Linked DNA regions of Homo sapiens. The protein of the gene in region 1 purifies or fractionates together with the protein of each later gene. This does not show direct contact. Each region holds a gene or a part of one and is shown in the gene's direction. Other genes may lie near its edges. The genes, in order: TESPA1, ITPR1, BOK and ITPRID2.

What was found.
Region 2: the proteins of TESPA1 (region 1) and ITPR1 purify together in Homo sapiens (affinity purification with mass spectrometry; 3 studies listed by BioGRID and IntAct, with this or other methods). This does not show direct contact.
Region 3: the proteins of TESPA1 (region 1) and BOK purify together in Homo sapiens (affinity purification with mass spectrometry; 3 studies listed by BioGRID and IntAct, with this or other methods). This does not show direct contact.
Region 4: the proteins of TESPA1 (region 1) and ITPRID2 purify together in Homo sapiens (affinity purification with mass spectrometry; 3 studies listed by BioGRID and IntAct, with this or other methods). This does not show direct contact.

The regions. Positions count from the first base shown.
Region 1 is NC_000012.12:54,981,757-54,988,797, reverse strand, and holds the start of TESPA1 (protein TESPA1), read left to right. Parts: upstream 1-4,035; 5' UTR 4,036-4,213; intron 4,214-4,631; exon of another isoform or gene 4,632-7,024; intron 7,025-7,041. UniProt on the Homo sapiens protein: Required for the development and maturation of T-cells, its function being essential for the late stages of thymocyte development.
Region 2 is NC_000003.12:4,839,335-4,846,365, forward strand, and holds part of ITPR1 (inositol 1,4,5-trisphosphate-gated calcium channel ITPR1), read left to right. Parts: intron 1-6,804; coding exon 6,805-6,891; 3' UTR 6,892-7,031. UniProt on the Homo sapiens protein: Inositol 1,4,5-trisphosphate-gated calcium channel that, upon inositol 1,4,5-trisphosphate binding, mediates calcium release from the endoplasmic reticulum (ER).
Region 3 is NC_000002.12:241,568,743-241,574,660, forward strand, and holds the end of BOK (bcl-2-related ovarian killer protein), read left to right. Parts: intron 1-1,382; coding exon 1,383-1,546; intron 1,547-3,554; coding exon 3,555-3,680; 3' UTR 3,681-5,389; downstream 5,390-5,918.
Region 4 is NC_000002.12:181,901,722-181,908,752, forward strand, and holds part of ITPRID2 (protein ITPRID2), read left to right. Parts: intron 1-44; coding exon 45-745; intron 746-7,031.

The DNA.
Region 1 (7,041 bases):
AAAAAAACAAAACAGCCAAACAAAACAAAACAAAAATGGCATTTGCAAACCCCAGGATCTGAGAAAGAAGAAGGTTGAGAGCTGAAATGGAGGCAGATGATTTGCATCTGGGCCTGGGCAGAGGGGCCCAGCTGCTCGGCCCAGAGCAGTGGCTCTGAGCAGCAGCTTCTCTGTCTTGGGACAGCCTCTATGGACAGCTGTCCTGGCTCTGCCCCAGGTCTGGGCAACCTGCCAGCTCAGCCTGTAGTTCTGCAGCTCCAGAACTTATACTCACTACAGCCCATCTGTTTGATGGGCTCATCAGTGTTCAGAAATTGTTCTTATTTATCAGTGTTATCAGGTTACATGTCTAGAGGATAATATTATTCAAAAGCAATATTTACTTGGCTTTTCAATGGAAAAGAGTCTTTCAAAATACTTTTTCTAATACCTTTATAATAATTTCTTACCAAATATCACTTAATATTTTCATTTTCCATAATAAACTACATGCAGTTATAAAAGGGTAGAGAAAAATAGTCTGTACAGGTGTTACTGACATCTAAAGCCAAGAGGATCTTAGAAAATATTTCTCTGTCAGAAGGTGATACCGATATCCAGTGAAATTAAGTAACTAGTATAGTTTTAAACTCAGATTGCTCTTTTACCCCTAGTTCAGGGTTTTTACTAAATTCTATAAAACACAAGAGAGGGAGCCATGGAATGACAAATAGGCCCTATCATGAGGCACCAAACTGCTGAATCACATAGGCAGTAGAGAGCTAATTCATTATCTCAGTTAGCATAAGGGTTTTTATTTTTAACCAAGGGAAAAAAAATGAACAAGCTCACAAAAAAACCTTCAGAAACCCTGAACTACTGCGTCTCGTATAAAAAGAACAAGTCATTTTGTTTTCATGAAGCACCTGGAATATATGCTCAGAGAAGTTCATGGTGCCAAAGATATAGAGACAATGTTTTCAAAGGGTGGGAAGGGCAGGTGAGAGGGAAAAAAGAGAAAGGGGAAGGAGGAAAGGAGGGAAGGAAGGAAAGAAGGAAGGAAGGAAGGAAGGAAGGAAAAGGAATGGAAGGAAGGAAGGGAAAGAAGGAAAGAAACAAAGAAAGAAAGAGAAAGACTATACAACTGAGAAAGAAGATAAACAGAGGAATACCCTGGGCCGCCTCCTCCTCCTAGGAATCATATAGTCTTCATCTTTGTCTTTCAGAAGCTGCTTGTAGAAGAGAAAAATATTTCTTTCAAAAAATAAATCACAAATACTATAAACATATAAACCTACATATGTACTCATAAAAATTAAGAATAAATATAAATAAAAACCAAAAATTAATACATCTTTTTTATTAACAAAAAAATCTCTAGCAATTGCTTGTGAAATGGTATCTTTAATGAGTGAGGTAATTTTGACAGATAGACATAGTATTCTGCAGAAACTGAAAATATTATATTTCATGCAAATCAAAACCACAATGAGATACCATCTCACACTACTCAGAATGGCTATTATTAAAAAGTCAAAAAATAAAAGATGTTGGCGAGGTGGCAGAGGAAAAGGAATGTTTATACACTGTTGGCGGGAGTGTAAATTAGTTCAACCCTTGTGGAAGACAATGTGGCGATTGCTCAAAGACCTAAAAACAGAAATATCTTTAGACTCAGCAATCCCATTACCGAGTATATACCTGGAGGAATATAAATCATTCTGTTATAAAGACACGAGCACATGTATGTTTGCTGCAACACTATTCACAATAGCAAAGACATGGAATCAACCCAAATGCCCAGTGATGATAGACTGGATAAAGAAAATGTGGCACATATACACCATGGAATACTATGCAGCCATAAAAAAGAATGAGATCATGTCCTTTGCAGCAACATGGATGGAGCTGGAGGCCATTATCCTTAGCAAACTAACACAGGAACAGAAAACCAAATACCGCATGTTCTCACCTATAAGTGGGAGCTAAATGATGAGAACACATGGACACATAGAGGGAAACAACACACACTGGGGCCTATGGGAGGGTAGAGGGTGGAAGGAGGGAGAGGATCAAAACAAATACCTATTGGGTACTAGGCTTAATACCTGGGTGATGAAATAATCTGTACAACAAACCCCTATGACAGGAGTTTACCTATGTAACAAACTTGCACATGTACCACTGAACTTAAAATAAAAGTTAAAAGAAACTATTATATTTCAAGAGTCTTAAAAATAGCTGCAATTTCTTGAGCATTTGCTGTAAGGTAGGCGCTGGACTGAATACTCTGTATTCCTTTATTCTTATAGCTCTACAACCACTCCTGTAAGGTTATCCCCATTTAGCAGCTAACAAACTGAGACCTAGAGATGTTAACGTATCCAAGACTACAGAGCTACTTGATGCCAGAGCTTCACTCTAAAGCCTGCTCTCCTAACCATCAAACTATCAATGTTAACAAAATGTTGACATTTGGGCCAGGACAATTATTCCTTATACTGAAGAGTCCCATCCCTTCAAAAGCACTTATCATCATTGGCCCTCAGGTACTAAATACCAGTATCAGCTTCCCATTTCTTTGAAAATTAAATCTCTCTCACATATTTCCAAACTCCCTACCGAAGTTATATTCTCCATTTCCCAAACATATTGGAAAACAACTGTTAAGGAAAACATTGAATTCTAGAAACTTAGGATTTAAAAGAGTTGTTAAGTTTCCATTAGTTCAGCTTTTATAGTTAATTTGTACGGAAAAGAATAGTAAATAAAGAGAATTAGGGCGTGTTGGATTTAGCATTTTACTTGTTGACTGTGAAGCTAATTCTCAGAGAAGCACATATTTAGCATCTACTATGTCCTGAGAAAATATGTTAGATATTTTCATGCCTACGTAAAAGGAATAGCGTGGGAGAAGGGTTGAGTGAGAAACAGAGAGAATTGTTATTTTCCTCACATTATACTTGAAGAAAATAATGTTTTGAGAACTTAATTTGCCAAGCAAGAATTTTATTTAGGATTATTTCTACCATATTATAGCTATACTATGGATACTCAATGGAGTTGTCCCATTGATGATTGGAAATGGAATTTAGAAACATGGTAAAAAAAAAATCTAACTATACCTATAGCCAAAAAATCAGAAAGAAGGTAATGAACATGTGAAAATCAGTCACAATTAACACATTAGAGGAGTGCCTTGTAGAATAAATATTGTGATATACATTCATAAATAAATGATTTAAAGAAGGAAACAGTAGAATCAGGAGAGAGACAGAAAGAAGATATCCAAAATGCAGCAGCATCCTACGGAGAAGAGTGTTCAGAGATACTGGAGAAGCGAGGAGGGATAGTTAGCAGTGCTGGATGCTCCCGGTGGGTGAAAGTGATTGAGGCCTGGGAGAAACCTTTTAGAGTTCAACAAGCCTTTTCCAAACTGAAAACCAATAAACTGAAGACATCTTCAGGGTGTAACCGATTTTAAAAGTTCAGCTTTGAAAACGTTGGGGAAAGCAGTCATTTACTACAAAAACAAAAACTTTGAAGTGGTTTGAACATAAAACAAAGTTAAGAAACTAACAGAAAAAAAAAGTAGTCAGTATTCAAAAACAAGCTTCGGGGGAATTTACCAGAGTATGAAAGTTATCAACACAGAGCGACTGGCTCAGAGCCCTCTCAAGTGTGTGATACGACTGGAAACTTCTTCTCTGAGATAAACGCCAGATCATTTATGAGAGAGAGCTTTCCCATTTTCAGACAGCTCTCCTGAGGACAGAAGGATTTATCTGCAGCAGTGGAATTCTAGTTATATGGTAGGAAGACTCCTGCACACACCTCTTTAAATGGACTGTACCTTTGCCTTAATAGGAAAAGATCTCCTGTTTTTCTGGAAAGACAGAGGCAGCTCTGGGGCAGGAAGGTCTTCCTAGTTGTGAGCACCGTGTCTACGGATGGTTTGTCCTTCGCTCAGTCTCCTGAGCCGGAGCAAAGGATGTGGCTGGGCCAGGAGGCGGGGACTGCATCTACATGTGTGGATGTGTGTGTGTGTGGTGTGTTCTCATTTCCGCTTCCCCTTTTGAGCAGGCAACAGCAGTTGAATGAGTTCAGGGAGAAAGGCATAATCTACAACATGATACTTTCTCACTTGCTTCACCTCTGTGCCCACACCTGTGAAGGCCTCGGCCCAGCTTCGACAACTGCTTTGCCTCAAACTCAGCTTTCTACCAGCAGACAGGTAAGCACAGCCTTTATCTCAGTTTCAAGGCTGTACTGATTTAGGGTGATGCTAGGAGAAAGAAGGAAACATGTCAGAGAAAAATCAGGCTGTCAAGTCAAGGGAAAATCAAGAGAAAATCTCCCACCACTCTTACTTCAACCTTAAAAGCATCCATCATTATGCCTAGGAGAACGATGCTGGGTGCCCTTTTGCTTTCGTTTGTTTGTTTTCTCTTTATTATCAGAGAGGTAATCTTTCTAGATTCTCAAAACTTGGGTCTCTTTGATGACTTGAATAACATTTTAGGAATTTTTTTTCACCTTTCTCACCTGCAAAGTTCTTCTCTGTGTCTTGCTGAACTCATTGTTGCTGCAATTTCCATCTGATTATAACATCGAAAAGTTCTCAAGGAAGAAGTTTCCCGGTTTCATTTCAGGCCCTACTCTAGTGTCCATAGCTCCAACCATTGAGAGTACCTGGCTGAAATCAACTTTGCTTTCTGTGGGTATGACCTCTTTCTTCAGAAGCTGTAGAAGAAACTTGTTGAGATAAACTGCAGCAAGATATATTGAGGTCAGCTACGAGGGAGGATGTACACACTTGAGTGAGGTAAGGTCAAATTCACCGGGAGGCTCAAGATAGATGGATAGCCACCATCAGGACCAGATTTCAGGGTTCACATCTCAAAGATAGATAGATGGATGTGTTGCCTTCTCAGTGACCTACATAATATTGGGGGCTTCATGCTCCTCCAACACCCCTTGCCCCAGTGGTAGCAGGCAGAGCATATCACCACCTACATGAGTTTTGGGGTAGATGGAGGAGTGGAAAGATCCTCCACCCTGGGGTTTTCCCATGCCCCTTCTGTGCCACTAAGCTCACCAGTGGGTGGAAGAAAAAGGGTGGGTCCCCAGGGCAGGGCAAGGACAAGAAAGGAGAGTTCCACAGAAGTGATTTGACAAGACTGTGAGCATTTACAGGAGATATCCAGGGAAGTACTAGTGACTCTGTATACCACAAATGGTCCTGAGTAGAGAGGTAAGGAGACTTTCTAGATGGTGCAGGGCAGTACCTAGGATGGGAGGTTGGAGGTAGGAACCTTCAACTTGTGTGTCCAAGTATCAGACTCAATAGTTGTTCAGCTGAGTGATTAGAGATAAAGATCTCACAATATTGTCTTGCAGCATGAAGTGTTAGTAGGAAGAAGGGAAGTCAGGTTTATTGTCTGTCTCTACTTGGACTATTATCAGAAATAACAAGCTGAAGATATAGCAGAAGGGATAGAAAGCAATTTAACATCTGAGTTATTCGCATGCACCCCAGGGTGTTTAGAAACCATTTACAACCACGCTACCAACATGTTCTCATAACTCTTGGGTTTTTTGAAAATTAAGATGGAACCCTGCGATTCAGCATTATGTAGTGAACATGAAGCCCCAACCGTCATTTTCAGTTCAATGTTTGATTTGGATTCTAGTATGGAGGTCTCGTCTCAGCCAATGCTGTGACTTACAAGATTCCTTCTGGGCTACAGTAAGGGGAAAAGATCACACGTTTATTTCCACCTGCAAACTGACAACTGTTCTCTTTTCCACCTAAGGCACAAGACCAAAGTGGATATTCCAGTACCCACAGTACTGTGTGCCTTACAACACCCAGGCCTGATGCAGAATGGCCTAAACACAGATTTCAGATTGAGAAAAGAGTTCAGTCAAATAAGTAGAGGGACGAGGAGAAGAGAGTGTGTAGATATTGAAAAAGAAAAGCAGGAAAGAAGAAAAATGAATATATGCAGGACAGAGCTTATTACCAAGGAAATGAAACTGAAGAATTAAAGATACGAATTCACAGAGCTAACACAATGGTTGAGAAATCTGCTCATTCTCCCTACTTTCTCTTGATGAAGCCATCTATAAATCAGCTCAGATAAACTGCTGTTTCTTATTCTTGATGTCTTTATTGCCCATTCAAATGAAGATATTTGATGTCTCCCTACATTGAGAACAAGCGATTAATTTTTTTTCCAAATCCACAACTTTAATATTTCCTGTAGCAATTATACAAGCCTTTCTTAAAATTCATATCCTAAAAGTGGAAGTAAGGAAGAAAGGGAAGGAGAGGAAAAAGGTCTTAGATGGTCTTCTTTCAGTATTTATTCAGCTACGCTTATTTGTGGGAGAAAGAGTATGAAAAGGGAGGGGAATAGGAGTTCTATTGACTAATGGGCATTTTTTCTTTCTGTTATTTACCAAGTAACATCTCTCCTTTTCCCCGAACAGATTGAACTGCTCCTTAGACAATAGAAGTCTCAGAATGCTCAAATATTATACTCAGGGAAATTCTTGTTCTGATGATCTTCCAACCTGAGTGACATGGAAGAGGGTTAGGAGCTAGAAGACAGTTCTATGAAGGAATGTGAGAATTTGTTGCAGATTGGGGTATGTCAAATGGGGGACAATCCACCTGGGTTGAGGTGGAGTTTGTCCAGTTCATGAACAGAGAAATGTTAGCTACTCTGGGATTTCCCGCAGCTCTGCGATGGTAATGATGTATATCTTGGCTGTGGATGCAGAAGGTCTTATGGGCCACATCATGGAAACCCCATTTCCTTCTTCTCTCCTCCCACACTGGTTCTCACTCTCAGTCTCAACTCACAGGCACTGCTTGGGGCATAGGTACAAAACAGACAGAAGAGAAGAGAGGTCTGTCTCATACATGTCCCCTAGAGCACTAAAGGCAAACCTGGGACTGGGCCTTGGAAACCAAGTGTGGCAGGAGGAAGGCTGTATGATATAAAGGAAGAAAGCATGCATCTGGAACTCAGAACTTGTGAGTTTGGTTCCCAT
Region 2 (7,031 bases), on another chromosome or scaffold:
AAAAAAGAATAGAGGTATAGGACAGTATCCGAGACTTCAGATGCCATCTCACCTCATTCCCTTATTTTCTTGATGAGGATACCAAAGGAGCCCAGAAGGTTCTTAGGCATTGCCAGGGCAGGAGCTCCTGATCATCCAGTCAGGGGTGTGTGTGTGTGTTTTTATTTGCTTTGTTATGTCACTGTACTGTTTGCCTTTCATGGTTGACTGTTTAAGTTCTTACTCTTTTTTTAAAAAAAAGCTTGAAGTTTCAGAAGTCAAGTCGCATCATATACTTAAATGGTATGGAGGATACATTCATTGTCATTTTATACAAGTGAGCATAGTAGAGACTTGGCATTTCTAAAATCCAAGATAAGATTATTCTGGATAAGCCAAAGTTTTAGTTTAAACAAAATATGTAAAATTTGATTACATATGGACTAAGGTTCATTAAGTGACATTAAAACCAGTATGGTTTAAACTGCTTGATTCCAGCCTTTTATGCATTTTTTATTTTGAAGTTGGCAGTTGGAACCACTCTTCAGAAAGCCCTTCCCCTGTGAATGAATTTGAACTGTTTTTTTTCTTGGAAGATATTATAAGTTAAAAAGAAGCATGAGAATCCAGTAGTACATTCTCAAGTGCTTTTACCAGGATTGATCTACTTAAGTTTTAAGGTACTCAGAATTACAGGAAAAATTCAGCATAGCTGCTTTTTTTTTTTTTTTTTTTTTTTTTTTTTGAGGGGGCAGGGGGATTTGCATCTTTTAAAAGGAAGTAGTCAGTGTTTTCTTTTGATTATGTAACGTCCTACAAACCTTTAATGCATTTGAGAATCAACTTGTTGAATAGATTTGAATTTCATTAAGTTTGGTTATAGCAATCATAAAGGTTTAAAAACCCTTTATGTGCAAAAGATATTAAAAAATGCAGATATGTTACAGAGCTGCTCTTTCTTAAATAGTAATTGTGAGAATTCTTGCCCTTTGTGGGAAAAAATTTTGAATTAAAAAATAAAAGCTCCATGAATGATTAATGACCAAGAAATCTTGTGATATTTTTTAAAACAGCTATGAAAGAATACCATTCACTAGTAAAAGTGCTAGAAAACACAAAAATTGCTCCATTACTTAGAGGTTTTTTTTGTTTTGTTGTTGTTGTTGTTTGTTTTAGATTTTCTGATTCAAAAACCAGCAGACTCGAGCAACGATAGCTTAAATGTGGATGACTTTGGTCTAAATCTTTACTGTTATTTACCTCTTTGATTGTTTCGTTATGTATCAATCTGAGGGAAAAAAGTTCTTGTTAGGATATTAGTAAAATTATGGTTAGTGGTGTCACTTTTTCTATTATTGCCAAGAATGGTTGGTTAGGATTGCTATTCTAAGTATTATTTAACGATGCCTCTCATCTTGAAGTTTCCCCTCCCAAGAGATTCTGAACACTAAATGTGATTCTCTTACATTCTTATTCCAAGGAGGAGAACTAATGTAAGAACTTAAAAATCTTTTGCATGTTTTCTTCATAATGCAAAAGAGCAAATACTAAGAAGGGCTAACTTTCTTGAAAATATGACTGGCTTCCTATAGGACAGCGACCATTATTTGCTGTTGCTAGGAATACAAGAAGTGCTTGAAAATTCAGATCACATTAGCATGTTACAGCATTTGGCATTTTTCATACAAGAGGGTTATCTTGCTAACATTAACTGCTTAAGGACAGAAGGCATAACACAAGATTAGAATAACTGCCCAAAGTTGGAAAATGGAATATTAAACGACCCGTACTGCATCTATGTTCCTTATACTGTGCTGGGACCACAAAAGAAGACTAAGTCAACATCTGCCCTCTAGATCCAGGATCTAGCAAGAAAGACAAAGAAGTAGACCTCTAGCAATCTGATACAGTATGAATGACTTGAGGCATGAATAGTTTCATGGAGCACAAAGAAGTAGGTAGGTAGTGGTCCTGTGTGAAGTTTGCAGTGCAGAAGGAGTTTAGCTTTTATAATCTTACAAGCAGGTGACTTCTGAGCTGGCAGAGAAATGCAGTAGGGGGCTTCCCAGGAAAGGAATCAGCATGAGCAACGGCATGAAAATGCATGGCATGCTCAAGGAATGGCAGTATGGTCTGGTTAATTCCGTTCCTTCTTTCAGCCAACACATATGAAACACCTGTTTGCCAGGTGCGGCATTAGGTACTGGGGCTACAAAGATGAATAGATCCTCTTCTCTGCCTTCAAGAACTAAAAGTCTAGAGTGGGAAACAAGTAAACAGATCAATTATAATTAAACTTGGTGAGTGTGTAACCGAGCTGTGAACACATTGCTCTGGGAATGGAGAAAAGGGAGTGATTTGTTCAATCTGATCTTCGGGAGAGGATTAGAGTAATTACCACAGAAGTCTTCTCAGAGGTGGTAATTCAGGAGCTTGGTTTCAAAGCCTGAGTAAGAGTTGGCCAGGTGAAATAGAGAGAAACAGAGCATTTGAGATCAACTCTAAGAATCTGAATTGTATCTATACATTGATAGTAAATCAACATATTTGTATTCAAGGGATGGTTTGGTTTCATTTCTCAGTATTTGAGGCTCATCATTCTGAACATGACTGATTTTATAGGGCTGTAGAAAATAACTGTGATTACTAGAATTTGCTAGCTGTTTAGAATCTGAGTAACCAAGACCTTCCTGTAACATGAAAGCAGCTTTTCAAAGACTATTAAGATGTGTTATAAACCAGAAATGTGGCATTTGTGTGCTGTCAATGAACTTTCCTTCCAGTGCCAGCCTTTAATCATTTAGAGGCAATACTGGTAGATTAAAATTTGCCCATTTCTACTGTATGCCTCGTGTTTTCATGAACAGTCTTTCAGATGTCTGGCTGTATCTGACTTGTAAAGCTACACTATTCTTTGCTTCTTGTTTAGATGAGTCAAAAGGAGGAATGCTGAAATTCAAGCTAGTTTCTACATTTGTATAGATGTGAAGAACAGCATTACTACAACTGTTTATCCTTAGCTACATGGGAATTTTGAGGTTTGGTTTGGGTTTTTTGCTTTGTTTTGTTTTTGAGACGGAGTCTCCCTGTGTTGCCCAGGCTGGAGTGCAGTGGCACGATCTCAGCTCACTGCAGCCTCCACCTCCCAGGTTTAAGTGATTCTCCTGCTTCAGGCCCCCAAGTAGCTAGGATTACAGGCATGTACCACCATGCCTGGCTAATTTTTGTATTTTTAGTAGAGATGGGGTTTTACCATGTTGGCCAGGCCGGTCTCGAACTCCTGGCCTCAAGTGATCTGCCTCCCAAAGTGCTGGTATTACGGAGTGAGCCACCATGCCCAGCCGTTTTGAGGATTTTTAAATGTACTATAAATGAGACATCTCACACTACTCAAAATAGATGTTTCAATATTAGAATTTTGAATACAGTTACCATAGATTTTTTTTACTCAAGAGTCAATTTTGTTTCAGATGTCCAGAGAGACTATTATCTGACAAAAATGCTAAGGATAGACTTTGGTCATTATATTTGTTTTGATGTAGGTAAGAGTAACAGACAATAATGATGCCTTATAACAAGATATATAGATAGTACGTGTGAATGTATGTAGGTGGGGTAGGTAAGTAGATAAGAAGAATTGAACTAATAAAACCAGAAATTATGTGAGAATATGCACTAAGAGGCTGGAGAAACCTAAGCGTCCAGAATTGTTGGCCTCAGTTTCTTATAGGTCAGATTTAGTCCTTCAGGGTTTTGAGGGGTTTTTTTTTTTTTTTTTTTTTGGTTCTCTTGTAATTGGATGATGACTGCTACTAAAAGGCCAAACACTTTAGCAGTTGCCCAATTCCTTCTCCTTTAGCAGTCACTTAAATGGCAGTGATGTTGACTTAAATGACAGCCATTCTGTCTAAAAGGCCATGGTTAATCAAAAGAGTATCAGTCAAATGTGTGTGCCTACTATATGCTCAGTTGCAGACAATCTTCTCCAAGAGCTTCCCTCATTTGAGAAAAATAATATATGTACACAAATTACTTTTTTTAAAAAAAGTGTTCAAGTATATACTCAAAATGATCTTGTCCGATTTTGGAGATTATCAGTGAAAAACCTCTTCTAGAGCAGTGGTTCTCAAAGTGTAGTCCCCAGACCGGCAACGTCTACATCATCTGGGAAATCGTTAGAAAAGCAGATTCATGGGACCTACCCCAGACCTACTGAGTCAGAAACTCTGTTTCTGATCTGTGTTTTAACAAATGTTCTGGGTGATTCTGGCGCATGCTGAAGTTTGAGAACCATTCTTCTAGAGAAACAGAAAAGAACATTAGATGTGTAGTTGGTACTTAAAATTATCAGGAATATGACTACCTGAGCAAAGAATTGGCCAATAACCCACATCAGTGGGGAGCCTTAAGGATAGGGACGGAGGGAGGGTGGGCGATGGGATCACTTATGAAGACAGATGAATAGGGCTGCTAACTGAGGAGGCATCAGGCCGCGGCTGTGGAAGTGAAAAGGAAGCCAGGCCACCAACTGAAGACTCCTTTGTTGTAAAGTTTCAGAGGTTTCTTCAAGTTGAAGAGAAAGACTAACTGACAAATTGAAAAGTCAAGGAGAGCTGATGTAACAAACAGGGATGAAAATACGCATACTAAAAGGTCATCTCAAATACAAGTAGTTATTTAAAGCAAAATTACAGGGGAAAAAAGTCTTAATGGCCAACTTTGACATTCAACTTTGAGTTGAAAGATTTCAGCAGCTTTAAATATAAGCTTTGAGTAAAGTATCCTTCAATAAGGGTTGAGCAGACCAAGATTTTTTTTTTTTTTTTTCCAAGACAAGATCTCAGTTGCCCAGGCTGGAGTGCAGTGGCATCATCACTGTTCACTGCAACCTCCACCTGCCAGGATCAAGTGATCCTCCCACTCTTAGCTTCTCAAGTAGCTGGGACTACAGGTGCACGCTACCATGCCTAGCTAATTTTTTTTCCCCTTTGGTAGAGATGGGGTTTTGCTACGTTGCCCAGGCTGGTCTCGAACTCCTGGGCTCAAGCAGTCTGCCCACCTCAGCCTCCCCAAGTGGTGGGATTACAGGCGTGAGCCCGCTGCACCTGGCTGAGCACACCAAGATTTCTAAATCAATTTGAACACTTGAGATTATCCAAATTTAGCTAAGTTGTATTGGATTCCCTCTCAAGGTTACCTGCCAAGGGAAGGGTTGTGGGAGAAAAATCTGAGCTAAACATCTGAACTATCAGGTAGTAAGATGAATGAATTACTGGCATTTTAACCTAATTGTGAATTTATTTCATGTGTCATATTAGGTTCTCCTTCCTGAGCCGAATCTGTGGATACAGTGTAGTGTGTAACACTTCCTTTAAAGATGTCACTCACCTAAGGAAACTTCAGGGGCTAGCTGGAATTTCCTAATCCAATTCTTAATTAAAAGCTTTATTAAAAGCTACCTTTTGGAAATACTAAGTCCTTGTAAGTCTTCTCATCTAAATTATAACAGAGAAAGCATCTCCACAGGAGCCTAAAAATAGTATTTTGATTTGAGAGGATAATGCTAGTTTTGAAGAAGAAAAAATAACCACATTGAAATTGAACCTAGGTAAATTAGTCTTGTTTTATGTTCTCTCCAGATATTTTGTACCAAAAATGAGTTCATGTGAAAAGTGAGATTAAGTGTCACATCTACTATGTGACAGATGCTATGCTAATAAATTTGCGTATAACCTCGCAATTCTCCACCAATCAGCTAGGAATTATCATCCTGATTGTATGGATGAGAAAACAGACTTTGATAAGTTAAATGACAAAACCATAAGAAACTAGATCTGATTCCAAAGCCTTTATTCTTTTTACCCTAATTCCTCTACAATTTTAGGAAGCTAAAAACATAGGAGTAGGACCTTAACCCACTTGCAGACAACAATTTTCTTGAATATATATTCCGTATAGCCTTTTTATCTCAGTTGACTTGAATGCTCACCCTAAAATCCAAAACTAAGACTAACTGGGTTAAGGAAAATCTTAATACAGAGACAGAAGTAAGTATGCCCTAAAATACCTAGAACAGGTCTAGAGACCCATCAACATGAGAATATATTTAGTTCAGCAACCAAATGAATAGAATCGGCTTCTTGTTTGGGATTTTGAAAGTACTTTTTCATTTGAACTAGTCTTAGGCAATGGTCTCGCCTGACCTTCAGCGAGCCTCAGTGTCTACTGGGTGGCAAGAAATAGATACCGTGAATGGTCACAGCATTATTTACAGCATTTAATCATTCTGGACCTCAAAGAGATTTGAGAACATTTCTCATTTTCCTAGTTATGGTAGGTAATTTTTTTTTTCTCTAACCAACTACTCAAGAGTCATTGAAGAGAAAAATCAGGACCCACTGAAAGTGTGGACACGAACCCTCCCTCTCAAACCTAGGATTCTAAACACTGCTTTTCTTGTTAGTATGGCGTGTTGTTACTATCGTACAAAGCCACCATTTTCCAATGAGTCTTCAAATCATTTGGAAGTGCATTTGGGAAACAAGAAAGAATCCTGTGCTTTTATTGTTTTTTGTTTCTTTATGAAACAAGTGGCAAGCAATACTTCTGAATGTTACATTGCATGACTAGGTCACAGAATTTCCCATTCTGCCTAAGAAGATGCCTTTTTTGAAGTGCTGTGTGTTTGATATAGCGATGGTACACTATTTGTAGAAAGTGGGTTTCAGTATAAACCATAACCACAGAGGTAAATCTATGGTTCAGTATGCGATTTGACGTACAGGAAGTATCTGGGTCTAATGATGAAACTTTTTAACTTTCCAGATGACAGAACAAAGGAAGCAGAAACAAAGAATTGGTCTTCTAGGACATCCTCCTCACATGAATGTCAACCCACAACAACCAGCATAAGCAAATGAAAGAAAGGAATTGTATTTACCTTTTATAATTATTATTAGTGTGGGTATGGCTAATGAGTTCTGATTCACCCACGAAGGTTACATTTATGCTGAATACATTTGTAAATACTCAGTTTTATACTGTATGTATAT
Region 3 (5,918 bases), on another chromosome or scaffold:
ACCACATTTGTATCCATTTATCTGTTGAAGGATACTTGGGTTCTTTCCACCTTTTGGCAATTGTGAATTGGCTGCTGTGAATGTCTGTGACTGAGTGTTTGTTTGAGCTGATTTATGTTTTCATAACAAATCCAGGTTGGCCGCTGTATGAGGGTGGATTGGAGAGCAGTGCTTCATCTTTGCATGTACAGTGTCCTCAGGCTAACTCCCTCCAGGGACCACTGCTGACTCCCTCCGGGGACCGCTGCTAACTCCCTGCGGGGATCACTGCTGGGCTGCATGTTTTGTGGCCATTCAGATACTGCCAGTGCCCTCAAGCTGGGCTTCCCACCAAGGTTTACAAGGCTGTGCAGTGGCCTGAATCCTCACACTGCCATTTAAAAGCATGTATTTATTTATTTATTTAGAGACGGGGTCTCGCTCTGTCGCCCAGGCTGGAGTGTACTGGCGCGATCTCAGCTCACTGCAACCTCCGCCTCCCCGGGTTCAAGTGATTCTCCTGCTTCAGCCTCCCGAGTAGCTGGGATTATAGGCGCGTGCCACCACGCCTGGCTAATTTTTTGTGTATTTTTAGTAGAGACGGTTTCACCATGTTGGTCAGGCTGCTCTTGAACTCCCAACCTTGTGATCTGCCCGCCTCGGCCTCCCAAAGTGCTGGGATTCCAGGCGTGAGCCACCGCGCCTGGCGTAAAAGCTTTTAATGCAACAGATTACATTTTGTTTTAATTTGCCTTTCTTTGGTTATTAATGAAGGTAAACATTTTTCGTGTCTCTTATTATAATTTTCTTTTGTGAATCAGCTGTTCCAGTTCTGTGCTCATAGTTCTTTTTTGAAAGCCTCTCTTTTCTCGCTCACGTATAAGACGTCTTTCCGTGTTGAGGCGTCGTGTCCTGCCTTTTATTCTTTCCCCCGCTGTCACCATCTTTCGTCCTCTCTTTCAAGGCTGCTCCCATCTCAGTTCAGCCTCAGCAGGTTAGGGGTCTGGGGAAGGCAGTTTCTCTGCGGGCCTCAGCTTCTTTATGTGTAAAATGTGGACGCCAGGCCTGTTGTGGGAACAGGCAGCCCAGGGGTGCCACCCGTGAGGTCACTGGCTGCTCACTCCATCTGCTGCTGCCCTCAGTTCCCTCGCCTCACCCCACGTTGTCCCTGCGGCCTCCTGCACAGACGTGGGCTGGGCAGGTGTGCAGTGGAGGCCGAGAAACCTGCCTGCCCAAGAACTACCTGACAGGCATCCTGTCAGGGAGCGGTCCCCCCTTGGGACGGTCCCTGGTCATTAGCTGGACGGCAAGCAGGACAGCGGCTCAGAGAGGCCCAGCCCCTTCCTTAAGTGCTCCCGTGGGCGGGATTCAAGTCCTGATCTTGACCATCTCTCTCCCTGCAGGCATCACGTGGGGCAAGGTGGTGTCCCTGTATGCGGTGGCCGCGGGGCTGGCCGTGGACTGTGTGAGGCAGGCCCAGCCTGCCATGGTCCACGCCCTCGTGGACTGCCTGGGGGAGTTCGTGCGCAAGACCCTGGCAACCTGGCTGCGGAGACGCGGCGGATGGGTGAGCGCCTGAGTGCCCGTGTGGGTGGGAGAGCTGGGGTGCGAGGGTGCAGAGGTACAGGAGGGAGTGGTGGATGGGTGAGCCTCTGAGCGCCTGGGGGGTGGGAGAGCTGGGGTGCGAGGGTACAGACGTACGGGAGGGAGTGGCGGATGGGTGAGTGTCTGAGCGCCTGGGGGGTGGGAGAGCTGGGGTGCGAGGGTGCAGAGGTACGGGAGGGAGTGGCGGATGGGTGAGCCTCTGAGCGCCTGGGGGGTGGGAGAGCTGGGGTGCGAGGGTACAGACGTACGGGAGGGAGTGGCGGATGGGTGAGTGTCTGAGCGCCTGTGGGGGTGGGAGAGCTGGGGTGCGAGGGTGCAGAGGTACAGGAGGGAGTGGTGGATGGGTGAGCCTCTGAGCGCCTGGGGGGTGGGAGAGCTGGGGTGCGAGGGTACAGACGTACGGGAGGGAGTGGCGGATGGGTGAGTGTCTGAGCGCCTGTGGGGGTGGGAGAGCTGGGGTGCGAGGGTGCAGAGGTACAGGAGGGAGTGGTGGATGGGTGAGCCTCTGAGCGCCTGGGGGGTGGGAGAGCTGGGGTGCGAGGGTACAGACGTACGGGAGGGAGTGGCGGATGGGTGAGTGTCTGAGCGCCTGTGGGGGTGGGAGAGCTGGGGTGCGAGGGTGCAGAGGTACAGGAGGGAGTGGCGGATGGGTGAGTGTCTGAGCGCCTGTGGGGGTGGGAGAGCTGGGGTGCGAGGGTGCAGAGGTACGGGAGGGAGTGGCGGATGGGTGGTCACCTGAGCACTCCTGGGGGAGATGGGTGAGGCAGGGGGTGGGGCAAGGGCCGAGACCTACAGGCAGGCCCTGGACTCTCCTCTGCCCAGATCCAGCACTGACTTACCCCCGATCCTACCCCTGTGCTAAGGACCCGCTGCCCCAGCCCCCGCCCTCCCGAGTGGGAAAAGCAAGGCCCCGAGGGGTGGGTGTCAGAGCCAAACCCTTCCTCTGTCTCCACGCCCCCAACTTCCTGCCCTGCTCCGGCCAGACCGCAGTTGCCGCTGGGCCCTGGGTGTGGAGGGTGGCTCCCCTGCCGAGAGTCTAGCCTTCTTTCCTGTACAGCGGGTGTTGGCCTGGTGTGTAAATCAGCGGCCAGGGGTGACAGCGCTCAGACCCCTCTGCTGGGGCCTTAGCTTTAGCATCTCGAGAGATTGAGGTCACGTGGTCTGCGGGGGCTGTGGTCTCCTCTGAAGGCTGAATTGGGGGTGCAGAGGGCAATGTCCCAAGATGTCGCACATGGCTACAGGTGTCCCTCAGCACAGAAACCCCAAGACTTCCGTCCCCTCCTGTCTTCCTCCTGTGGAGTCTGGCATGGGGCTGGGCACTGTGTGCCCAGTGGGCGACGACACTTTGAGCAACGCCAAGGCCACAGGTCCAGGCTGCAGGGAAAAGCCTTCATGTATTAGCAGGAAGTGAAGGGAATAAGAGAATTGGACGTTCATTCACTTCCCCAGAAGGAACTTCAGAGTCCAGGGAGTCCGTGGGCTTCCGGAAACGCAGTCCCTGCTGTTGTTCCAGGCAGAGTCTGAATGAAGCTGGGTTTGCCCCTTCCTGGTAGCCCAGGCTCCAAGGCCCCACAGGAGGATGACGGCGGCATACCTGTAGCCCCTGGGGGGCAGCAGGCAGGTGGCCGAGGGGAGCTGGCACCCTGGTCTGGATGTCTGGAGCCCCAGCGAGGGCCATGAAGGCCTCTCTCCTGCTCGGCAGGGGCCCTCCGGCCGGCCTGCCTGGCTGCCATCTGTCCCCACCTCCCGTGCCTCCTGGCCCTTCACACTGTCTGAATGTGCACGGCATCGGGTCTGGTCTTGTGTTGGAGCCTTCAGTCCAGGCCACAGACCTCCTTCCCGAACAGTCTCCTGCATTCCCTTCATGCAATTTTGCTGATATTCTGGTGCACGGTGCTGGGGGGCCTGGCGGTGCTGGGGGCCTGGCGGTGCTGGCTCTGCTTTCTAACGGTCTCCCTCTTCCCTCCCAGACTGATGTCCTCAAGTGTGTGGTCAGCACAGACCCTGGCCTCCGCTCCCACTGGCTGGTGGCTGCACTCTGCAGCTTCGGCCGCTTCCTGAAGGCTGCCTTCTTCGTGCTGCTGCCAGAGAGATGAGCTGCCCACCTGGCAGTGGCCGCAGCCTGGCCCTCTGGGCCCAACGCAGGAGGCCCTCAGCACCCGAACACATCTTCCTCCTCCCCACCCGAGCCTGGAGCACTCTAACCCTCGGAGACCCCCTAAGCCCCGTTCCTCCGCAGACCCAGGCCCTCCGGAAGGGGTGAGTGGGGAGGGGCTTTCCTGAGCCTGGAGCTGGGCTTTGGGGCAGCCTGCGACCCTCCCCGCTTGTGTCCCTTCTCCTGTGATCTCTGTGTTTTCCCTTTTCTTTCTGGGGCCAGGAAGTCAGGGTCAACTCCCAGGCCTCAGATGCAGGGGCCCAGAACACCTGCTCTCACCTGAGCCCCAGGTGAAGGGGCCCGGGAACACCTGCTCTCACCTGAGCCCCAGGTGAAGGGGCCCGGGAACACCTGCTCTCACCTGAACCCCAGGTGAAGGGGCCCGGAACACCTGCTCTCACCTGAGCCCCAGGTGAAGGGGCCCGGAACACCTGCTCTCACCTGAGCCCCAGGTGAAGGGGCCCGGGAACACCTGCTCTCACCTGAGCCCCAGGTGAAGGGGCCCGGGAACACCTGCTCTCACCTGAACCCCAGGTGAAGGGGCCCAGAACACCTGCTCTCACCTGAGCCCCAGGTGAAGGGGCCCGGAACACCTGCTCTCACCTGAGCCCCAGGTGAAGGGGCCCGGGAACACCTGCTCTCACCTGAGCCCCTGGTGAAGGGGCCCGGAACACTTGCTCTCACCTGAGCCCCAGGTGAAGGGGCCCGGAACACCTGCTCTCACCTGAGCCCCCGGTGAAGGGGCCCGGAACACTTGCTCTCACCTGAGCCCCAGGTGAAGGGGCCCGGAACACCTCCTCTCACCTGAGCCCCAGGTGAAGGGGCCCGGAACACCTCCTGTCACCTGAGCCCCAGGTGAAGGGGCCCGGGAACACCTCTCACCTGAACCCGGGGGTCCCATCCCAGGAAGAAGGGCCATCTCAGGACATGAGTCCTCAGGGGCCCTGCACATTCAATCTGAAGGTGACCCTGGCCTGGCTGAAGCTGGAAGAGCTGTGGGGACTCAGCCTGTAAACAGAGCGTAAGGTTCACATGCTGGTTGCTTAATCCGTTTCTGGAGGAAGAGTATGACACCCACTTGTGATGGGGTCCTTGTGCGGTGGGGACCGGGGCCGGCGGGCTCCAGGCCAGCACACCTAACCCATGGATGTGGAACCTACGGCCGAGAAGGAATGTTGCATGAGTCGGATCCCAGTCCATTGTCAGTGGAGGGTGAGGGTGACCCCATCTGCTATTTTTGTGCTCATCCTCATACAACCATTTGGGGATGTGCCTATTAGGGCTCCGTAAGAACTCAGATGCCTGGGAAGCCCAGCCCCTCAGGTGCCCCCACACACAGCCTTCCCTTGACGCCTACATTTCTAGGCACATGTGAGGCATCTTTCCTGGAGCCCCGAGCCAGCCCTGTCCCTCCCCAGTGCAGCATGGCACTCAGGAGATACAGGCTGGACATGGGGCAGTCGTTCTGGGGAGGCCTGGCCTAGCAGCCACCCACCTGAGCCCTCCCGGCCAGGCTTCGTGCTGGGGTGGGCCATGTGCCAGGACAGGAGGGTCCCGGCGGAAAGCCAGCCCCGGACTCATCGTGACATTGAGATCCCACTGGAGGGTAGGGGTGGTAATAAACTTCTCCAAACGATCGTTGTCATTTTAGACAGAATGTCACTGTGTGTGTGTTAAATAGCTTCTACCTATACACAACATGGTAAGAGGTGCGGAGGGTTTGCTTGAAAATAATTGAGGGTGGGGAGTGGCGAGAGGGTGGGGATGGGAGGGTTCCTGGAATTGGGTCTTTATCCTGATTAGATGTAAAGGCACTAATGCTGATTTCCAGTAGTAAAAAGAACACCGATAGTCCATAGTGTGATGTGGCAATAGAGGTATGCATAGTATCACCACTGGGTGCTCCTAATTAAATACTTGCAGAAGGCAGGGTTCTCGGTGGCTTTTGAACACTTTCATCAAACTAGAGTATAATGGGCCAGGACCAGTAGCTCACACCTGTCATCCCAGCACTTTGGGAGGCAGGAGGATGGCTTGAGGCCAGGAGTTCAAGACCAGCCTAGGCAACATAACAAGATCCCATCTCTAAAAAATAAAATTAGTCAAGCACGGTGGCCTGCACCTGTGGTTCCAGCTACTCTGGAGGCTGAGGTGGGAGGATTGGTTGAATCTGAGAGGT
Region 4 (7,031 bases), on another chromosome or scaffold:
ATATATAAATATAAACATATCATTAATATTGTTTCTTTTGGTAGGCCGTTTTCGTCAAATTGAAGTGCTTACTACTGTGGCCAATGCGTTTTCTTCTTTATATTCTCAAGTCTCCGGGACGCCCCTGCAGAGAATTGGAAGTATGTCCTCAGTGACCTCTAACAAGGAGACAGACCCACCTCCACCTTTAACTCGAAGTAACACTGCAAATCGTTTAATGAAAACACTCTCAAAACTGAATTTATGTGTTGATAAAACAGAGAAAGGAGAAAGTAGTAGTCCTTCTCCATCAGCTGAAAAAGGAAAGATTCTAAATGTTTCAGTGATTGAAGAAAGTGGCAATAAAAACGATCAAAAGTCTCAAAAAATTATGAAGAAGAAAGAGTCATCTTCTATGTTGGCTACAGTTAAAGAAGAAGTCTCTGGTAGTTCAGCAGCTGTTACGGAGAATGCTGATAGTGATAGAATTTCTGATGAAGCAAATAGTAATTTTAACCAAGGAACTGAAAATGAACAAAGTAAAGAAACTCAAAGTCATGAGAGTAAACTGGGTGAGGAATCTGGTATTGTAGAATCCAAATTAGATAGTGATTTCAACATATCCAGCCACAGTGAGCTGGAAAATAGCAGTGAGCTGAAAAGTGTCCATATATCCACACCTGAAAAAGAGCCTTGTGCACCACTGACAATACCATCCATAAGAAATATAATGACACAGCAGAAGGACTCCTTCGAAATGGAAGAGGTAGGTAAAAAATTACTGAGACTGGTTTCAAGTTGCAGACTAGGAAAAAAAGTACCAAAAATGCTTATAAAATGAGAGGTAGCTAATAGATTTATACTAGAAAAATTTATTCTAATTTTGACTTTCCAGGTTTATGTTTCACAAACCAAGAATTGGTCTCAGGATAATGTGATGTCGAGGTAATGGGACAGTTCAGTAACTCCTCCAGATCTTTATCCACTAGTTGATATTTGAACCTTAACCCTCTTTTCTCTCTCAAGGGTAAGATTTTGATGCTCAAGAAAGCCCTGAGAGAGTATATTTAAATTCAAAGCAATATTGCATAATAGTTAGAAACACAGGCTTTGAAATCAAACAGGGCTTTGAGTTTTGTCTGCCACTGAATGACTGTATGCCTTTGGGCAAGCTTTTCTTAACATATCTCAGTGGTAAGGATATGTGAAGGCGGCTTTGGGGATAGTTCTTGTTATATGACTGGAAAGAACATGAAGATATTACGTACCTGCATGGGGAGGATAGGGACCCTAGAATTAGCAGGTTTGAAAGGCCACTGAATAGGGTTTCTGCAAGCCCAAAAGACCAATGTTTGGTTACTTGTTATTTGTGTCCAGTAATATACCTGATAGTTAACATAAATTTTTAATTGGAAAAGATAAAAGATACTTATTTTGAATGAGGTTCAGCTAAAACTGCTTCTGAATAGTAGGAGCTGAATAGCTTGGGGCAGGAAAACTGATTTTACCAAGCATCTACCCTGTGCTGGGCACTGTTCTTGGCTCTTGAAGTACTTCATTGCAGTCTGTGAGGCACATGGTAGTGGTCTCATTTTATACATGAGGAAACTGAGGCATATGTATGCTAATGAAGAGTTGTGGCTATAAATTATATAATGCGCAATTTGTCTTTTGTAATTTATTACATTAGATGCGTTTTAGTAATAGTTCACAGTAGTTTTAACATCACACACCATTATTTTAGGGAATTAGAAAATGAAATAATTGATTCAGCTCATAAATGTCCTCTTAGGTGAGTGTCTCTCTCTCTTGCTCCCTCCCTCCCTCCCTCAGATTAGTGAAGATTTTTCATTTATTGTAAAATTTCAGTTGCTGATACAGATTTTTGCCTTTTTGTGGTCTGTTAATACTTTAATTACAACTGAATAGTGAAATAAAAAGGGAGTAGGAGCAGCACCTTGGAATATTTTACATTTTGAGCTTTTTTTCTTTTATTTCTTTGTATATGTTTATATTTCTTCTATCTTTTTACCTCCTGGTATAATTTATTTCTCATCGTAATGAGTATGGAAGATGACTGTGATGACTACATTAAAACCTCTGTTTGTTCTTTTTCACTCTGATAACTTTTTGACTTTGTTTTGGTCTAAACTTGTTCCAGCACTCATAATTAAAGTGTAAATTTTTGCCTACCATTAGGGCCCTCTTCTATGACAATTAGATATGGCAGTTAATTTCCTTGTTTAATACAATAGCAGAGCATAAAGATCTAAACAAATTATGTTAGGTAATTGCAAATCTGATATTGGCGACTCCGAGTGAACAACACTCATATTTTCAAGTAAGTCACTCTTCAAAGAAGTCAAGGAAGTTTATTTTTAATTTCTAAAATTCCTGAATTCTAAGCTGTAGTTTTTAAAATTTTTTAAGATGCCATACACAAAAGGTTTTTTAAACACTTATAAAGTGCTAGATGTACTTTTGTGGCAAGTTAACCTTTAATGATAGTCTGGGGGTTTTTTGCCCCCTCTACTGGCAAAAAAGGTTAATGAAGAAAGCAATGTAGCATTGACGTGAACATTTTTTTGAAGTACAAGATTACATGCATTGGTGGAAGAATAATGGGAGATTTTTTTTTTAAATGAATTTATGGTCGACCACAGCTACATTGTAAATATGGGGAATTTTAAAGAAAATAATGTATCTTCAGATATATTTAAAATATGGATAAAAACCTCCTGGAAGTGTGTTTTCATCCCTAAGGGAACATTAAAGAGAGCTTGTAGAACAATGGATAAAGGAAATAATGTGTTAACTTTAATTTCCTCTTCTCCCAAACACTTGAATCATATTGACAAATGAAGAGAACAATCTTATTGAAACTGACTTTTAGATCCTATTCAGTGTAGTTTGTTGCTATTTTTCTTTTGGACCTCTTTCCATGAGGTTTGATTCTTGCTGGGAATTTTCTTCTTGTGAAAACCATGAGTAAATATAAGTTAGAGCTCCCTCTGTCTCAGTAAATCAGTTCTCAGAAACATTATCTGAGCATGAGCTGCTTTAGGAAGCTAGGAAGGAGAAAATGTTGCAGATATGTTGACTGCATGAAGCTGCCTAATCCATCTGAGACAAGAGGTAAGATCCAACAGTCACCAGAAGCAAAGAGACAAAATACTTAAATGTAAAGAGAGCTAAATAGATGATGAGACTGCTCCTGGCCTGGTACAATGAAGTGTCTGTTTCTTATGTTAGAAAAGGAAAAGGCCAGAGACTTTCAGTTAAAAGTCAACTTGCCTTATAAAGTGTCTTGTAGACTGTTTAAAATAGTTATGAATGTTTATAACGATGTTTTTTCTTTTTTTTTTTTTTTTGAGACGGAGTCGCGCATTGTCACCCGGGAGTGCAGTGGTGCAATCTTGGCTAACTGCAACGTCTGCCTCCTGGGTTCATGTAATTCTCCTGCCTCAGCTTCCTGAGTAGCTGGGATTACAGGCACATACCACCACAGCCAGCTAATTTTTTGTATTTTTAGTAGAGATGGGGTTTCACTACGTTGGCCAGGCTGGTCTCAAACTCCTGACCTCGTGATCTGACCACCTCGGCCTCCCAAAATGCTGGGATTACAGGTGTGAGCCACCACACCCAGCCTATAACTATTTATAAAAAGTTATTAAATCCTGTTCTTGAATTTCTAATTATTCCAAATGACTTGCTTCATTAATTCTTGTGTTCTTCTTGAATGGCTTATTTTGAATACGTCATGGTAACTCTCTGAAGCCATAGATTAGTAGTGTGAATGATTCACAAGTTAAACCAAAATGATCCTTCTCAAGCAGATGTTCATCTTTTAGATGTAAAGGAAAAACTTAAGAAGGAGAACTTTTATCTCAGCATTTCTGTAAGAAGTTGACTGTGTGGTCTTCTTGACCTTTAAATGAATTTTTATTTAAATATAACCATTATTGGATATACACATAATCTTTTTTAAGCTACTGATGTGTTAGTAACTGTTTCTAATCCTGTCTTCATACTAATTATTGATTTAACTAATGTACTTGACTTCTCATTTTTAGCTGTTAAGTTTTAGGATTTTTCTATGTTTATTGGTCTGAGTTAAAATAATCCCACATCAGTCAGATATTTGACAGATAATTAAGTTGTTCCTTTGGCCTTTTAAATGTAACTGTGTATGTTTTGAAGATAAGCCTGCCCTGGAATATGAACTCTAACATATGACATGCACAGATATCTGCTACTCTAAAGCCCAATTAACCACTGTTTTGTTATTTGATATTTACCTAAAAGACCTTAGTCAATTTTTATTGAAAATTTACCTGACAGTAAAAATAAATGATATTTTTGTGTGTATGTGTAAAACTCGATAGTATTTGTTTAAGATAAACATTTGCAAGTAATTTATAGAATCATAAACTAGTACGGAAAGAGATACTTTATTCATTTTCTAGTTTCTTCCCTTTACAAATGAGGAAGCATCCCCTCCCTCATTTGATATTGTTTTATAGCAGTGGTTCTTCACCATCTTTCTGAGGGCTATAATATTCCTTTTGATATCAGTGCTTCACAGGGGGAAGGAGCACAGCGGGTGTCAGTGGAGGATGGCAGAGGAGGATCTCCTGTTGTACATTCTTACTACTTTACTGTTTGAAAGTACTTTGACTTACAGTTACATTTGATCACCCCAAGGACCTATGAGGTAGAAATTTTAATTTTAATTTTGCTGTTAATTTTAATTTTGAGGCTGAGCATGGTGATTCACACCTGTAATCCCAGCACTGTGTGGAGGCTGAGGCAGGAGGATCACTTGAGCCCAGAAGTTAGAGACCAGCCTGGACAACATAGCATGACTTGTCTCTACAAATAGTTTTAAAATTAGCCGTGCATGGTGGTGCATGTCTGTAGTCCCACTTCTCCAAAGGCTGAGGTGGGAGAATCACTTGAGCCCAGGCAGTTGAGGCTGCAGTGAGCCATGATTCCACCACTGCACTCCAGCCTGGGCAACAGAACGAGACCTTGTTTCAAAAAAATGAAATAAAAAAAAAAAATACGGATATTTATCGCAGATAATTGTCAGAGGCCGTTAGCCAGTAAGTGGCATGAATAAGACTTGAATTCACGTTACTTGTGACTATACTATACAACTTGGTGAAGGTCAGATATGTTGGTATGGTCAGGCATTGTACAAGAACTAATCATCTGATGCACAGCACCATGCTACTACTTTGGAAAAAGAATGATTTCCTCTGACATTTTTTTGAGCTGTCATTAAAAATTAGACAGAATTGTAATTTCTAAAGCTCTAGTTTTGATTTTCTTTGAAAACCATTTTGATATACAATGTTTATTCAATGATGACAGCTATACAGTCTCTTTTTAAACTTTAGAGGAAGGGTTATTTGAGTTAGAACATCCATGTATTGCTGTCCTGTGCAATACAATACAGTAGTATTGTGCCTAGAAGATCCCTCTTAGTCAAGGTAAACATGACAGCTGTTAAGAAACCAAAGTGGTTCACTGAAACAAAAAGTACATTTTTTAAACAAGAGAAAGAAACCAAAGTGAGTGCCTGTCATTTTAGCAGAACATTGATTTAGAAAGATACAGTCATTGTTTCATGAAAACTTTTTTAAATGAAGTAACCCAAATGTGTGGGTTATTCTAAAGCTGTTTTTCATCTTTGAATCCCAAAACATTGAGACCATGCAATTTTATCACTTTGGTTTAGTGGTTTTTTTTTTTTTTTATATTATGAAACAGTTTTGTTATGAAAAGTTTCAAACTTACTTGAAGATTAGAGAAAATAATATCATGAACACCCATTACTCATCATTCTAATTCAGTTTTATTTGGCTATTCTTGTTAATTATGAAAGGCTGCTTATAGCAAATGACCAGAATTCTACGGAGCATTTGAAACCACTGAATAGGGAAAATCTTGTCACATAAATCTAAATTCTGTGTTCTATATTTGCTTCATAATTCTCTGTGGTGTACCCCATCTCAAATTTGACTGCCGCCTTTTGCACAATTGTGACCAATAATAAAATAAGAAATTCACCCATTATCACTAGCATGTATGTTTCTCTCTTCAGCAAGTGGGTACTCTGATTTTGCTGAGTAAACAAGAAGAATCCCAACTTTAGTTTTATTAGTAAAATGTGACTGTCTCAGCTTTTTGAAGTGCTCCTTTCTTGCACTTAATTATGGAGTTTGTAGTAAAAGGAGAGAGTAGATTTGTTTTTGCCATTGAGTAGCATCTTGAAGAATAGAATGCTGATGATATGTGTTTATTAAAGTCATGTTATTTTGTGATTAATTTCATAAGTCTAAGGAAATAGAATATGTGATAATTCTGTGTTTAAAGGTGAGCAGCCGGGTGCGGCGGCTCACACCTTTAATCCCAGCACTTGGAAGGCTGTGGCAGGTGGATCGCTTGAGCCCAGGAGTTTGAGACCCCAGCCTGGGCAACATGGTGAAACCCCATCTCTACCAAAAATACAAAAATTACCCAGTCTCATAACCCAGTCTCAAAATAAATAAATAGATTAAATTTAAAAAAAACATGACAGTGAGAGATTTGGTATATTAATGCTGTGCCTGAGCCAGTATTCCTAGAACATAAATGCAGAGGCATTGGAATTCTGCTATAATTTTTTGATCTGGTTGATATTTACTTTACAGAAAGATACTTGAAGTAGACCGAGCCTGAATAGAAGCTAATAATAGACATTTTATTGAATATAAAAAGAAAACGCACATTGTTCCCTTGCATACAAGACAATGGTTTTCCTGTTGAACATGTATCTGCTGCTTTGAAGAATTATTCTAATTTTAACAAGATAACAAAGAATAGTAGAATCTATTTTTATATATCTGATCTACAGGTGATGGTTTTGCATGAGTAGTGTGCTTTCAGTTTTCAAAAGATTCATAAACTTCGGTTCCTGGAGCTATGTAGAGCAAAGAAATCACAAATTAGAGCAAATTTTAAATTGGGTAATACTATCTTTAACCTTTGGGCTTTTAAAAATGTTG